Linked DNA regions of Homo sapiens: regions 1 and 2 are each reported to be linked to region 3. Evidence: microRNA targets listed by miRTarBase, many of them from high-throughput screens and not tested one by one. Region 3 holds a microRNA gene; each other region holds the end of a gene's coding sequence.
The links. The annotated mature microRNA hsa-miR-513a-5p reads UUCACAGGGAGGUGUCAU and lies in region 3 at 943-960, opposite strand. An mRNA with a match to its seed (bases 2 to 7 or 8) in the 3' UTR can be bound and repressed. Matches are read on the target gene's strand: a 7mer-m8 pairs with bases 2 to 8, a 7mer-A1 pairs with bases 2 to 7 and ends in A, and an 8mer does both.

Region 1 (3,000 bases), not on the chromosome of region 3:
AAATAAACATCTACACCTGTTCTTTAATAAACATCCGATTTTATTTACAAAGCATTAAAGCTTCAGCAAGAAGTACCCAAGGCTAAGTCTCATCTTGTACAAAACTACAGATTTTTTTTTTTTTTTTTTTTTGAGATGGAGTCTTGCTCTGTCACCCAGGCTGGAGTGCAGTGGCGCAATCTCAGCTCACTGCAACCTCTGCCTCCTGGATTCAAGCAATTCTCCTGCCTCAGCCTCCCGAGTAGCTAGGATTACAGGTGCCCGCCACCACGCCCAGCTAATTTTTGTATTTTTAGTAGAGACGGGGTTTCACCATGTTGACCAGGCTGGTCTCAAACACCTGACCTCAGATGATCCACCAGCCTCGGCCTCCCCAAGTGCTGGGATTACAGGTGTGAGCCACCATGCCCAGCCCAGAATATTTTTAAAAACAAAATTTTGGGGGTGGCAGGGCAGGGATGACAAAAAGGAAGAAGAGAATATACATATATTGTACAAATCAAATAATTCAAATTGAAATGGATAGAAGGTTTTTTAAAAGTTGAAAAAAAAATTCCAAAAACATAAATAATTATTAGGAGCTACTGCCAGAGACAATCTGACAGGGCTGAAGATGATTTTCTCAGTAGCCAGTTTAGGAGGTGGACATAGCACAAACATCCAAATGCACAGGCAGAGGAAACCAAGCTACTTCACACGTGGAAAGATGGCAGAAACCCTCTAAGTCCCATAGTTTGCACACTGCTGCAGTGTACAGTGCAGAGGACTGGAATGGATATAATGTCTGCAAAACAAAAACATGTCTAGTGAGCCATCTACTAATCTCAACCACTGGTCTAACTCATGACAGTCTCAAAATGAATATTTAAGAAAAAAGTAGTGGCATCTAAAAATATAGACGTTTTGCAACTGACTCAGGGAGAGCTCTTTCTTCAACTACTGAATATACTGGTTTTAAATGATGGAGTGAGACAAAGAGGCTCTTGCTGACGTGCTCTACTTTGATTTCTATCCTAAAATCTAACAGGTAATCAATGTGTTTGGCTACCTATAGGAGCATCCACCAACTGATATCATTTTTTTTTTTTTTTTGAGATAGAGTCTCATTCTGTCACCTAGGCTGGAGGGCAGTGGTGCGATCTCCACTCACTGCAACCTCTGCCTCCCACGTTCAAGTGATTCTCCTGACTCAGCCTCCAGTGTAGCTGGGATTACAGGCATGTACTACCACGCCCAGCTAATTTTTGTCTTTTAATAGATACAGGCTTTCACCACGTTGGCCAGGCTGGTCTTGAACTCCTGACCTCGGGTGATCAACCCGCCTTGGCCTCCCAAAGTGCTGGGATTACAGGCGTGACCCACCACGCCCGGCTCACCAACTGATATATTTCACAGTAAGCACAGTATTTAAATTCTCCTTTTAAAATATTGAAAAAAAAAAAAAAAAAAAAAAGACGATCCAGATTAAGCACTTCCAGTCAGCTAAAAACGCCACTCAGAGAAGCTACTGAGCCCTTTTCACACCTGGTTTCCTAATGGGATTTTCAGAGAATTTCAAACACCAAATGTACACATCTATCCAATCTGTTATTTTTATAAAGAACAACAAATGTCAAAAAAAAAGCTAAGCAACCTTTCACAGAAAGGAAGTGACTGAAAACACAGTAAGAAAAAGGAGCACAGGTATAGGCAGGGAAAAATGCAATGACTGATGAGGATAGATTTCCACAGGCAGTGATACAAAAAATTCACCTTGATCTTTGATTTGAACTATGTGGTTGCTGCTTTGATTCTGGATGGTTTTACTTTACTCCTTGCATAGATTCCCCCACCCCAGTAAAAAAGTAGCTTGTTGAGAGACACCTGGGTTTGTTTCCATCTCTGGAAGCCAGCACAGGTAAAGCAATATAAACTATTGATGATTCTTTGCTGGAGATGGATAAAACTAGCTATCTTCAAAAACCATGATTGATGACAATGAACCAATATTGGAGGGAAACATGCAATGAGAGGAAAACAAGGGAAAACCCTGAATTGTTACAGCCCAGCTTCTTGAGCAAAACGTGGTATGAGAGGAAGAGAGGGCCTTCGTTGTTCCCTTTCTGAAAATTTGAAATCTTTCAAGCACTTTCTTTTCTGCCCATCCTTTGCACACAATATGGAAATATAGGAGGTATCTGGGGAGAGGAGAAGTTTAAAATGAGAGTATCCAACAAAAGCTTTCCTAGGATACCAGTAGCAAAATTTCAGATAAGAAGTCACTCAAAGACATGCATTGAGGACCGAAGGCAAATGGGAGATAGGAAATGACATGTCAAAATGACGCTGGGTACAATGAAGTTAGATGAGCAAAACATAAGTATCTTTTCTCCAGCAACATAACTAAGCATCAAAGTTTAAATGAGTCAAAATTCCTATCTGATGTCTTCACAAATCTTCATTCCTGAGAGTCTATTTGGACTTATGCTTGAAAGGGAAGGGAAGGTCGTATACTCTTCTTCCATAATTCACTTCTTCATTTAAACATAAAATTCACCCTCCCACCTCCTGGGTGGGAGGCACAGGCCTTTGTTTTAAATTAAAGTCAATTTTCAAATGACTGACCACAGTGTCCAGAGGCCACATGATGGCAAAGTGAGAAAGAATGAAGAACTTCGAAGGTCTTCATAACAGTTCTGAGATTGCTCCTCCTGCTAAAGAGATTAGACACAAAAAGATTTCTTTTAGCTTCAATTTAGACCAGTTACTTGTAAGAACAGAAATACTGAATGCTGGATGATGCATTACAAGCACACGTGGACCAAGAAATTCCCCTTTTTAAGAAAATACATAACCAACTCCAACTCCCAATTACTCTTTATTGAACAAAAAACAATCCAAATCCAAACCCCCCACCCCAATACTTTCCTCAGTACTGTCCCAAAGGGTTGGGGGAAAAGCAAAATGATCAGAGTTCTATTTTTTCTAAGCTGCTAACCATGCTCTAAGGTGCTAACAAAT
Region 2 (3,000 bases), not on the chromosome of region 3:
GGGCGCCTCTGCCGGGGCGCCGTCGCCCACGCTGGAGCTGGCTAGCCGCAGTCCGTCCGGGGGCGCGGCGGGCCCGCTGCTCACGCCGTCCCAGTCGCTGGACGGCAGCCGGCGCTCGGGCTACATCACCATCGGCTACCGCGGCTCCTACACCATCGGGCGGGACGCGCAGGCGGACGCCAAGTTCCGGCGAGTGGCGCGCATCACCGTTTGCGGAAAGACGTCGCTGGCCAAGGAGGTGTTTGGGGACACCCTGAACGAAAGCCGGGACCCCGACCGTCCCCCGGAGCGCTACACCTCGCGCTATTACCTCAAGTTCAACTTCCTGGAGCAGGCCTTCGACAAGCTGTCCGAGTCGGGCTTCCACATGGTGGCGTGCAGCTCCACGGGCACCTGCGCCTTTGCCAGCAGCACCGACCAGAGCGAGGACAAGATCTGGACCAGCTACACCGAGTACGTCTTCTGCAGGGAGTGAGCTCCCCAGACCCCCTCGCCACTCCAGCGCCCAGTCCTTCTCCTGCCCGAGAGATGATTACAGAGCCTCTTGTCCCACCTTTGTCCCCTGGCTGCTGCCCTCCCATTCTCCCCCTCCAGTAGTAGCTGGGTGAGACCTGTCCGCCCACCTTCCCTCCACTACAGAACCTGCAGCCGCAAATCCTCTGGGCTGCTTCGTCTTCTTTGGACCTCCTGAACCGAGAGAACCCAGAGGAACCCCCACCCCACCCCCACCTACCACTCCATGCTTTCTCTACTCCCTGCCTCAAACCACCCCTCCCCCAGATGGTACTTCAGTTTGGATCTATTGGGGGAGTGTGGCCACAGACCGGGGGATGATTGAATTGTTCAGAACCTGATTGGACCGTGTCCAATGTGCGGAAGATTTCCTTGAAATCTTCTCAAGCTCTTATGACTCACTGGGGGTTTAAGAGATCAGGATTGGTTCCACTGTCTGGGGTTAGTGTTTTACAAGGTCATTACACAGTCTTTTTGACCTCTTTTGAAGGTAGAGTTTTAGAAGGCTGGATGGAAGATTCTGAGCCTGGAATTAGGACCCCATGGAGGCAGTTCAGTAACTAAACTAATAAAGTTTTGAAAAGTTACACGTAAAGTAGAAGAATCTAGTGCGTGGGACAGTAAAGGATCCTTTCTCGTACAGAATAAAAGGTCTCAGCCTGTAGCTTAAACTTATAGAAAGTGATCCGCCTGCCTGCAGAGGCGCCCTTTTCAGCTGCTGCTCGCCAGAAGCCCTTGATTCCACTGGTTGACATGGCAGCAGTTACTGGCAAGAGGGAGAAAGGACGCTGCCGCCTAAGAGTGCAAGGCTGCTCAGGTCTCCAAGCGCCGTAGGAGGTCACCTGGCAGTGACTGTAGGGAGCTGGGTCATAGTGCACGTCGTGGGTATTAGGAAAGCCTGTATTCTTTCAATGAATGTCAGTAGGACCTTCCTTTAGCTGTAAGACTTGGTGGGCGGGGTGGGGTGGGGAGGGAGGAAAGGGTAGGAAGGGTGGGAAGGGAGAAGCAGACATAGTCATTTATGATTTGAAAGTTGGAAGTTTGTACCATCTGTTTGAGTATATGCACATTTAAAAAATATCATATAGTAAATGCAAACATGCCAAGTATTTTATAAAGATTAATAACAGACCTACTCTTACCTGGCAGTTTACTTAACTTACTGTTTTGAGTCCTAAACTTAGAGTTGTTAATGCTTATATATAATCTAACCAAAGAGTTACCCAGTAGGGTTTTAGTTTTTGAACTTTTATTTTCTTGTTGATTATAAATCCTGATTTTGGAATCTATTGCGCAAAAGAAGTTTCATTTTGGTTACTTAGACCTAAGATCACTTATTAAAAATCCTTATTTTCTCCAAGCCCAGCAAACGTTGACTTCTGGGCAAACCTGAAAACCTGAAAATGCCACTTTCATGCAGTTTGTTTGAAGTTAAGTGGAATCCTTTCAAATGACGAGCTGCAGAGAACTCAGCACCAAGGGCTGCCTATCTGTAGATAGCTGTAAAATGGAATATTTTTAAATGAAGGCAAATAAGTACTTAAAAGTGAGCTGAGCAATAAAATGGTCCAATAATAGGTAAATGCAACAGAAACAGAAGGAGACCTGGTTGCCTTATGCCTTTACTCTTACATGGAATAAATTCCCAATGCATATCCTATGTAAACCATAAGTGAAGGGAAATAAACCTCGTCATGCTCCATGCTGTGAGGTGTCCTTTGGATATTCTGTGATGACAGAGAAGCCTATTTTGTTTTGTTTTCAGCATCTTTCTCTGATGTACGTTTTTAAGGATTTTGTAAGAGCTGTTTTCAGTGTTTAAATTAGTGCTATTTTTCCTTGTTTTTAAAAATGAATCTCGTACTGTATCTTACTATGTCCATACAGATGTTACAAATCGACAGTTTTATTCTTAGACTCATGTGATCCAAGCTGTATATACCATATATAAACATTTTACATGAATCATTTAGTTTTTTAATTCATTTACTAATGCTATAAAATTTCCTATATTACCCCAGTAATTTGCATCAGCTGGTTTATATACTAAAGCAACATGTTTTGATGAGTTTCTTACATCCTTATCGAGGAATTGGGTTAGGAAAAAATACATAATTGTAAAACTGAGTTTGCTGTATTATACTTTTTTTCTTGAGTATTAGTTGTATTACTAATCATATGTTGATTAACTGTCTACTTAAAGTCAAGGTACCTGTATTTTTAATCCACTAATTTTTTTTTAGTTGGGAAATAGATTTCAGGTCTTTTATTAGACTAACATTTTTTGAGAAGTAAAATTGACTTCATATACAAAGCCTGTAATTTTAGGCGAAATGGAAGCAGAAATCTAGGAAGTTGTGCTTGCTTGTATGTTGAGTTTGGTCTCAGACTAAGTAATGCATCAGAATTCATCTGTTTGAAGCCTGAAATAATTTAGGACTCTGATTCACTGACCAAAAGTCAGTGTTGCAGAGATTTCTCTACCCC
Region 3 (3,239 bases):
CTGTAATCCCAGCAATTTGGGAGGGTGAGGTGGGTGGATCACGAGGTCAGCAGTTCGACACCAGTCTGACCAACGTGGTGAAACCTGGTCTCTACTAAAAATACAAAAATTAGCCAGGTGTGTTGGCGCACGCCTGTAATCCCAGCTACTTGGGAGGCTGAGGCAGAAGAATCGCTTGAACCCGGGAGACAGAGGTTGCAGTGAGCTGAGATGGCGCCACTGCACTCCAGCCTGTGTGAAAGAGTAAGAAAGACTCCATCTCAAAAAAAAAAAAGACAGAAAATGGGGAGAGAAGACTAGGAGATATCTCTTGAGTAACAACTCTATCATACGCTTCCATTGTTCAAACATAAAAAACAGGGAAAAAAGATAATGGAAAAGGGTGAAATATTCTTGGGTGGACTACGCTTAACCCTCCATAAATTGGTGACTGAAGGCTTTGAAAGGTATTTTAAAAGTCTATGAGAAAATGTTTTAGTCTTTGACAGAAAATGGACACTGTGGATCAGCAATGAAGGGACCTGAGAGGCAGGAGAGTCTTTTGGGAGCGCTAAAGGAGAATCCTTGCAAATGATGACTTCTTGATAAGTGAGAAAAGTTTAGGAATCTGGAATATAGCCTTCCAGCTGACGAAGAATGGCTGTGGCCTCTATCCAATGTATTTCTTATTTGAGCCAAGCCTCATTTGGCAAAAATAGATAAATTCTTAAGGAACCGAAGTGCATGCGTTTTCTCAGGAGTCCACAGTTCCTATGTATAGTCATTTAGAAGGCACAAAAAGTTCCCTGAAGTAGCCCAGCACTGAAGAGTGGGTGCACAGGATGCAAAACAGGCATCACCATGCTCGCAGCTACACCCCCATCCTCAGGGACACCACATATGCAGTGCATGCTGTACATTACCCTTCTCAGAAAGGTGAAATTTATATTTTAGTTCACATAAATGACACCTCCCTGTGAAAGGCACTGCACACTGAATGGCTGAATGTGGCATCCAAGAACAAATGCTCCCTATTCATGCCGTTTTTTTTCAAGTCCCTATAGGTGTATGCCTTGGCATGGCCACCAAGATTTATGCCAAGGGACAATGCAACTTGTAGCCCCCGGCGCTCCCCTTTTCATCCTGCCCCAAGTGAGATTTTAACATGCAGATTTTTGTTTTGTTTTTGTTTTTGTTTTCAGATGAAGTCTGGCTCTGTCGCCCAGACTGGCATGCATTGGTGTGATCTCGGCTCACTGCAACCTCCCCCTTCTGTGTCTAAGCACTTCTCCTGCCTCAGCCTCCCAAGTAGCTGGGATTAAAGGCACATACCACCGCGAATGGCTAATTAACACACAAATTTTAGGCTTAGCCAGAATATAACATTTCACTTCATCTCTTCCCCAGAGATGTGTAATCCTTGTCTGGATTATCCCATTAGTTTTCGCGTTAATTTGCTTGTCTCATTAAAAATCCTCAATATCAGGCCAGGTGCAGTGGGTCACACATATAATCTCATCACTCTGGTAGGCTGAGGCTGGTGGATCATCAGAGGTCAGGATTTTGAGACCAGCCTGGACAACGTGGTGAAATTCCATCTCTACTACAAATACAAAAAATTAGCCGGGTGTGGTGGTGGGCAACTGTAACCGCAGCTGCTGAGGCAGGAGAATCACTTGAACCCGGGAGGTGGAGGTTGCAGTGAGCCGAGATCATGCCACTGAATCACTTGAACCCGGGAGGTGGAGGTTGCAGTGAGCCGAGATCATGCCACTGCACCCCAGCCTGGGCAACAGAGTTAGTTAGACTCTTTCTCAAAAAAAAAAAACAAAAAAAAACTATATATATATATATGTGTGTGTGTGTGTGTGTGTGTGTGTGTGTGTGTGTGTGTGTGTGATGTACACAAATAATCATGAGCTGAGGCAAATTAAAAGACCTGGATTCTTCTAGCTCTGGCCCTTGATAGCATGTAGAAGTCAGACCACATGATCGTCAAGACCGAGTGTTTCTATGTACCATTCTCATTCATCTACTAAACATAACCCCTGAAAGACAGACAGAGAAGCACATAGCTCAGTGTTAGTGCTGAGTCACGGTCAAGGAGCCATAGTTCACTGAACAGAATGATTCTAAATATCTCAAGCATTTTACTGCATTTTTTGAATTCCATGAAAAGCAACCAAAGTTAGATTCTACAGAAATATTTATATATATCAATCAATCAATCAATCAATTTAGCTTTTCTCTTAAGTATTTGGGCCCTTGAGCTATCTCCCCAAAAAGTTCTCAAGGGGAAAAAAATACACAGACACAATACTCCCTCCTTCAAACACCAGTACAGGTACTACTTCTCTTCCTCTGCATCACCCACCCCTCAGTAGCTTCAAAGGAGTCTTTCCAGCAACCTGGCACATCATAGCAGGAGATTCTAAGACCCACTGCTCCATGAAACCACATACACAGACACATATACGCCCAAGTAAACAATATTAAAAAGAATGAGAATACAACAAAATATGAATACAAAAAAACTAACCATAAACAGAATTGATAAGCCATCGAAAGAACCCTAGCAATACACAATGCAAAGTTCCAACAACATATGTGCAAATTAATATGCAAATTAAAATATAACCGAAATCACACAGTGAAATCCAAATAACAACAAAAAGAAAATACAAAATTGCAAGCAATGTACGTAAAGAAATACCAATCAAAACACCAATGACCAAGAGCATGGCAAATCTGAAAACAAATTCAAACAAACACATATAATCCCAAAGGAGCCAAAGTCAAACAAACAAAGCAAAACCATACACATGAAATAAACTGATAAGAATAGCAAAAGCAAAACAAAAACAAAACAGAGATCCAACCTCAAACAAAAACAACATAACAAAATCCTCATGCTACATGCCCCGTGCACACACAAATGTATGGGCACATACACCAAAGTGCACACAGATACATGTATTACTCCCCCCATCACCATATAAACACAAACAAATGTGCTAGAACACATGCTAAAAACTCACAATCACCAACAAATATATCAGGGTATCTGAGCCTCAAAGCCCAAGGAAATCCTATGAGTGCAAGAAGGATGGAAATAGATACGATGAAGGGTAGCCACATGTAGTTGAATGGTAATACTATTAGGAAAGAAAGTAGAGTAGTTTTCTTCTATTTCATTGTAACCTACATTTCCCATCAAGTTCTTGAGTTGGGGAGGGGCATGTGGTTGTTTGGAGATGGGA

Region 1: the mRNA of RBBP5 is a reported target of hsa-miR-513a-5p. Seed matches in the 3' UTR shown: 7mer-A1 at 1,636-1,642 and 7mer-A1 at 1,389-1,395.
Region 2: the mRNA of KCTD12 is a reported target of hsa-miR-513a-5p. The part of its 3' UTR that is shown has no 7-base or 8-base seed match.

What each region holds. Positions count from the first base shown.
Region 1 is chr1:205,086,123-205,089,122 of GRCh38, forward strand. It overlaps RBBP5 (RB binding protein 5, histone lysine methyltransferase complex subunit), which reads right to left. Exons shown (of 14, transcript NM_005057.4): 14 at 20-2,693. The coding sequence ends at 2,665. Among named protein-coding and RNA genes, the nearest start is that of TMEM81, 3.2 kb to the left of the region's middle.
Region 2 is chr13:76,882,646-76,885,645 of GRCh38, reverse strand. KCTD12 (potassium channel tetramerization domain containing 12) reads left to right here. Exons shown (of 1, transcript NM_138444.4): 1 at 1-3,000. The coding sequence ends at 475. Among named protein-coding and RNA genes, the nearest start is that of KCTD12, 2.3 kb to the left of the region's middle. RefSeq lists a silencer at 1-113 and an enhancer at 1-226.
Region 3 is chrX:147,224,958-147,228,196 of GRCh38, forward strand. MIR513A2 (microRNA 513a-2) reads right to left here and starts at 995; the gene lies at 869-995. The region is part of intron 2 of LOC105373347 (periphilin-1); the gene reads left to right.